Homo sapiens: one gene and its partner. The protein of the gene in region 1 purifies or fractionates together with the protein of each later gene. This does not show direct contact. Each region holds a gene or a part of one and is shown in the gene's direction. Other genes may lie near its edges.

The links.
Region 2: the proteins of CLCN3 (region 1) and LYSMD4 fractionate together in Homo sapiens (co-fractionation; one large-scale study listed by BioGRID). This does not show direct contact.

The regions. Positions count from the first base shown.
Region 1 is NC_000004.12:169,623,509-169,627,157, forward strand, and holds part of CLCN3 (H(+)/Cl(-) exchange transporter 3), read left to right. Parts: intron 1-3,649.
Region 2 is NC_000015.10:99,730,425-99,733,643, reverse strand, and holds the start of LYSMD4 (lysM and putative peptidoglycan-binding domain-containing protein 4), read left to right. Parts: upstream 1-1,636; 5' UTR 1,637-1,644; coding exon 1,645-1,926; exon of another isoform or gene 1,927-2,221; coding exon of another isoform or gene 2,222-2,286; exon of another isoform or gene 2,287-2,435; coding exon of another isoform or gene 2,436-2,471; exon of another isoform or gene 2,472-2,849; intron 2,850-3,219.

The DNA.
Region 1 (3,649 bases):
GTTTGTGGTGAGAACGTTTAAAATTAACTTTTAGCAATTTTGAGGTATATAGTACATTATTATTAATTATAGTCACCGTGGCATGCAATAGATCTCTAAAACTTACTCCTCTAACTGAAACTTGGTATTCTTTGACTAACCTCTCTCCTTTCCTTTTTCCCCCTTCTCCCTAGCCTTTGTAGACCACCATTCTGCTCTCTGCCTCCCTGAGTTTGACTTTTTTTTTTAGATTTTACACATATGTGAGATCATGCAGTATTTGTTTTTTTGTGTCTTATTTATTTCACTTAGCATTATGTCCTCCGGGTTAATCTACGTTTTTGAAAATGACATAATTTTCTTCCTTTTAAAGGCTGTATGGTATTCCATTCTGTATATATATTACATTTTCTTTATCCATTCATCATAGATCCTTTTAGATATCTCTAATATCGACCTTAAATGCAGAAGATGAATCACTGTATTGGAAGAAAGAAAAGTAATCCTATAAAATCAGTTTAAAATTAGGTCAGTATAGCAAGGATTAGATATGTTGATTTTACTTTGGGTACTCTGAGAACTTGATTTAAACTGAACCTTGCCCAGTGCTAATGTAATCAGTAGACCACACTAATTCCTATGGTATAGTAGTGACTTTTTTTTTGAGATAGACTCTTGTTCTGTTACCCCAGCTGGAGTGTAGTGGTGCAATCTCTGCTCACTGCAACCTCTGCCTCCTGGGTTCAAGCGATTCTCATGCCTCAGCCTCTGGAGTAGCTGGGATTACAGGCACGCGCCACCACTCCTGGCTAATTTTTGTCTTTTTAGCAGAGACAAGGTTTTACCATGTTGGCCAGGCTGGTCTTGAACTCCTGACCTGAGGTGATCGACCCGCCTCGGCCACCCAAAGTGCTGGGATTACAGGCATGAGCCACCGTGCCGAGCCAATTTTTGTATTTTTAGTAGGGACAGGGTTTCACCCTGTTGGCCAGACTGGTCTCAAACTCCTGACCTCATGTGATCTGCCCACCTCGGCATCCCAAAGTGTTGGGATTACAGGCATGAGCCACTGCACTGGGCTGGAATACATACTAATTTTTAGAAAGCTATTACAGCATCCCTCTTGAGGAAAATGTATAATGTAATTTATGCTGAAGTCTACTGAAAGCTGTAGGGCCTATACAAATATAATGGCATTAATACAATAAAAACTGTGTTCATATTTATTATAATTTCTGGTACATTGTTAGCTATTCTATAAATGTTAGTAAATGAATAAGTTATGTTGAAATTCCTTTTCACATTTTTTTTTCTTTTGTTTGAGGCTCAGTCTTGCTCTTGTTGCCCAGGCTGGAGTGCAGTGGCGCGATCTCAGCTATCCTCAGTCTCTGCCTCCTGGGTTCAAGCTATTCTTCTGCCTCAGCCTCCTGAGTAGCTGGGATTACAGGTGCCCGCCACCATGCCCGGCTAATTTTTGTGCTTTTATTAGAGACGGGGTTTCCCCATGTTGGCCAGGCTGGTCTTGAACTCCTGACCCAGGTGATCTGCCCACTTCGGCCTCCCAAAGTGCTGGAATTACAGGTGTGAGCCACTGCACCTGGCCTCTTTTCACGTTTCAATCTGTGACTAGTACTTAGCACAGTTTTTACAATATTTATATGAAAATGCTCCTTACATACAAATGGCTAGCTCAGATTTTCACCTCTCTGCCATCGTTGCTCTTGAGACTTTTGTTCCATCTCTCTAGTTGCTGACATTGACAATCTTTTTCTTCTTTCACCCAGTTTATATCCACTTTTCTTTTTAGCTTAACAGAGAGTTGACTGACACACCTTTGGGAATTAGATGTGGTCCTCAGCTGTACCCAGTCAGTCTCCTTTATGGGAGAGACAAAACTTTGTTGGGAACCATGAAAAATTAGTGTGCATATCTCAGGCTGTGGATCCTTTCGCCACCCATTTCCATGGTTTTCCTATTTTTGCTCCCCTCCCCAAATTCTGGTGGCATATTGCTTAGTGTTTGCAGTTTTGGGGCTCAGGTCAGTGTAATGGAGGTAACCTTCTTTATAGTCTGACCTGGAATAGAAACTAAAGCCTCGACATATAATCCTAAAGTTGGAAAGAACACGCTGGTCTTGAGTTCTGTGAGTTGCAGGAGACTGAAATTTGTTTCTGCCAACTGTTTTCAGTTAATCAAGTTGGAACCTTAGTGGATATCTTAGATTCTTCTTTACCATTCCCTATATCTTATTAATTACCAGGTCCTCTTAAATATTTCTTCAAACTCTCTCTGCTTCTCAATATTGATGTGTCTTAGTGAGCAGGGTAAAATCACAGCCAAAGTATTTTTTAATTCTCTCACTCAACACAACAATAATTAACACAGAAGACTTCTGTGACCAGATGCTTGGGGGTTTCTCCCCCCACAGCAACCAACCAGTTAGTTCTGCAGCAGATACCAACTGGGTGCCCCCCGGTTCCAATACGGTGTACCTGGAGGTAGTGTCAGACACCACTGGTTGAGGGCAGTTCCCAAAAGACTTCCCCCACTTCCAGTGCTAATCGCAAGCCCCAGGTTATTTTGATTTTGCCTGTGCTTCTGATAACACTGGCTATAAATCAGGGATCCCATGACCCCCCCACTCCTTACGTCCTTGGGTTCAATTAATGTGCTAGAGCAGCTCACAGAACTCAGAGAAACACTTACCGGTTTATTATAAAGGATGTTCAAAGGATACAGATGAACAGATGCATAGGGGGAGATAGGGGAAAGAGCATGGAGCTTCCATGCCTTCCCATGGTGCGCCACCTTCCAGGAGCCTCCAATGTTCAGCTATCCAGAAGCTCTCTGAATCCACTCCTTTTGGGTTTTTATGGAGGCTTCATTACATAGGCACAGTCAACAACTGTGTAGAAATGTGATTGGACAAAAAGAGTATGACCTAACAGCACTAATAGACCCAGTGGGGAAACCCAGCAAGGCCTGCCTGTCCAACTTCTTCTGCCTGTCTGCAGCATTCCTTCTTCCAGGGTCTGGGGCAAGCTCCCTTCTAAAGGGAAGGTCTTATGACCCACAGTCAGACAGGCTGTGGAAGATTAGAGTTCTGCCTTGGGTTGGTGGAAAGGAGGGCAGGAAAAGGTCAGCAAGAGAAGAGATTCTGTTTTCTGAGGTTTAATGTGCCCCAACATTATACAAAAGACTGTAGTAAGGCCAGGCACAGTGGCTTACCTCTGTAATCCCATCACTTTGGAAGGCCGATGTGGGCGGATCACTTGAGGCCAGGAGTTCGAGACCAGCCTGGCCAACATAGTGAAATCCTGTCTCTACTTATATAAAATTAAATTTAATATTAAAAAAGAATGTAATAAGAGCTGTGGGACTTATAAACCAGGAACCATGGATGAAAACCAATATATATCATATCACTCTTAATTCAGTTATGCCCTATCTTACGTTTAGAATTGTTCAGACGTCTAGTCTCATCTCCAGCTTCTCTATCTGTAGTCCTTCAGTCTCTTACCCTTCTTATCTGGCTTTCACACTGCTGCTAGTGTTGGCTTACTAAAATTCATGTCTGATCATGTGATTTCTCTAAAGTTCTTCATGGTTTCCCCTGTGTATAGATGAGTATGTAAGTTTCTTAGTGTGACACATGAACCCCTCCCCTTCA
Region 2 (3,219 bases), on another chromosome or scaffold:
GGTAGGCGGGTGGGCGGGGCGAGGGCCACTTCCGGGGTGTGGAACCCTGTCGAGCCCCGCCCCGAGCCCCGCCCCGAGCCCCGCCCCGGGCCCTGTGGTCCCGGGATGAGCTCTCCGCGCAGCCAGGCTCGCTCCAGTGCCCGCCCAGCGCTGACTTCATTGGCTGCCTCCCCAGTCCCGCCCCCAGGGGGGCCCTGCTGATGTTCGTAGCCAATCCGCAGGCGCGGTGGCAGCTGCGGGTCGCGGGTCGCGGGTCGCGAGTCGCCGGTCGCCGGTCGCGGCGGAGCCTGGGCGCTGAGGTACCGGGGCCTGGACGAGGGGGCCGCGGTCTGGCTAGGGAGCCGCGCGGGCTCATGGCGGTACGGCGACCTGGCCTCGCTCGAGGGTTCGCGGGCGGGCCGCCCCTCCCCGGGCTCCTAGGGGGACGCTCCAGCTGGAGGGGCGGTGACCGCGACTGTCGTGGGCTGGCCCCAGGTGGCTAGGGTTGGGGGTCAGAGGTCAGAGGTTCTGCCCTCTGGAATGTTAGGGCCCCGCCCGTGGAGCCGTGGAGCCCTGGGGCCGGGCCGCTCCCCATTTTCCTGTCAGCTCTTGTTGAGGTGCCCCATCTTTTCGCAGAAGGGACTTGGAGGGAAGCGGGCCTGGAGCTGCTGCCGCCGCCCCTGAGCTCGGACGCGAAGGCTGGCCCCGTCCCCGGGCTGCCGCCGTGGTCCTGCAGGTGACCCTCAACCCCCCGAGGACCGCCGGCCGCCTCCCGCCTCCGGGCAGGCTCAGGAGCGCGCGGAGCGGGGTGTGGGCCTGTGACCCTCGAAGGCGTGGGCGGGGAGTAGGGGGTCGAGCTGGGGCCGCAGGCTGTCCCCGTACGGGCTGCTCCCCTGTGGCTCCGAAGCCACCTTTTTCTGAAGTTGTCAGCCCGCGTGTTTGAGATTTCGTTTCTGGAATCTCACGCGAACAATCTGGAGAGAGGAACAGGGGTCTTGCGGCTTTGGCTGTTGACTCAAGGGGAAAATAAAAACCAGACAATGGGGATGTAATGAATGCAAAGTGACCCGTGAGCAAACTGGACGCTTTTCTCCGGCTGACAGGCATGAGTTCTCCCCGTAGCTTGCCCCACATACTGTGAGTTAAACTGTGTCAAAGTAAGAGCAGTTTAGCCCCACAGTTCTGAGCAAGAGTCCTTAGCGCTGACCTTCTTAGTGAAGATACTTTGCAATGTGTAAAATATTGAATACAAAATTATTGTGCAAAGCTTCTGAGTTGAAGATTCTGAGTGCGCGGAGGCTGGCGGCAGCCCTTACTTGCCATTGCAAGGATCTCAACTTACTACTCTGAGAGCAAAAGTAGTTGTTTCTTTACAGATGTGGGTTTAGGGGAGACAGCTATGGATGAGGAACAGGGGCGGGGTTCGTTTTCTGCACAAAACGTATGCGATTAGAAAAAACAAAGGGTTTTTATTCTGCCTATCTTCTTCCATCTCAGCCAGCATAAGCACATTCTTTTTTTTCTGTTGATGATGTATGCTGAGTATTTGCAGCGATTAGGAAAAGGAATACTCTCTAACAAGACACTTCTCTTTAAACGAGGCGGTGGAGGGATGATTATGTCTTCTGTGGAATTAACCCTCCGGCTTGATTTTCAGTGAAGAAAATGAGGCACGAGGAATTGTTAACCAAGACCTTCCAAGGCCCAGCTGTTGTGTGTGGGACTCCGACCAGCCACGTATACATGTTTAAGAATGGCAGTGGGGACTCGGGGGACTCTTCTGAAGAAGAGTCTCACCGTGTGGTTTTGCGGCCCCGGGGCAAGGAGCGCCACAAGAGCGGTGTCCACCAGCCTCCCCAGGCGGGAGCAGGTGACGTGGTGCTGCTGCAGCGGGAGCTGGCCCAGGAGGACAGCCTCAACAAGCTGGCGCTGCAGTATGGCTGCAAAGTAAGACACCCCTCAGGGGCCCTGCCCCGCTCCGTTTCAAGGAACACGGGGAACTCACTGCAGGGTGGGTGCCCTTGCCGCCCTTCTTAACCCTGCCAGGCCGTCAGGAGAGGCCTGCTGTAGCAGCCAAGGACTCCCCTATTTAGCCAGAATTGGAATGCAGGTGGGAGTACCTTTAGTTCCCAACCCTGGCCCCCAAAGAGGGAGGGTTAGCGCATTTCTTTCTCTGCAGGGAACTTCTCCTTTTCCTGTTTTCTCCACACTGAAATTCTGAAACCTTTTTTCTTCTTTCGAGCACATTTTATTTTAGACCTAATGGGGCTGGAGATACCAGGCAGAATTTAATTCCGGATTTCTATGGTATGCTTGCTTTTCTCGCTGCTCTTATTTTTCTGAACCTTTCTTGGTGGTAGCTTACTTGACTTTTGGTAAAGTTTTACCTTCTCTCGTTTAGAACTGCATGGTCTTTTGTATGCTGTGTATCTATATAACCCTGTTTTTCTCTAATTATGTTTTCAGCATTCAGAGTGATTAACAATGGCAAAGTAAGTAGGAAAGTATTTCTAGAATTGCTGCATTTTCTCCTAGATTGCAACTGTTTCACTTTGCTAACACTGTGCTACAGATTTGTATGGCCTTCTCTAGGGGTATATAAGCTACTTAATTTAAGAAATCTCTTTCTCCTACAAGTGTCTTATCTAACAAGGTCCAAATGTCTGAAACATGTTGTGTGGGGTGTTGCGGTCTTTCAGGGAAATAAACAGGTTGGTCTCCGGGGACACATAGTGGTCTTTAAATTGTACTGACAATTATATTTGGCTCCGATAAGCAGCTTCTGCAGGCATACTGTGTGGCTTACAGAACATGGGCTGAAAAATGAAGCCTGTCCTACAAAGACCGGAATAGATGGAGTAGGCTTCTTGGTATGGTGATGTCTAAATCCGTAAAGAATATATAAAGCCTTTGATAAGTGATCAGTTTTCCTATTTGAAGTAAATAAATTTGCTCTTAATTTATTGAAGGCAGAGACAGAAAGATCTCAAGGGTCTCATGCATTAGATTCAGGACATAGTGAATTAAAAATGTCCCCTACCCCAAATCAGTTACAATAACAGCAGTTGCTGAATAATAATGGAAATGATTGATTTGATTGAGATCTGTTGGCTGTATTCACTTTCTAGTTTAAGTGGACTTAAGTGTTAAAAGTTTGGAGTTCATCTCTGATGCTTTTGGAAAGTTTTCAAACATTAGTTTGAGGGAGGGGTTACCCTTTGACTTACATTCTCCCTGCTT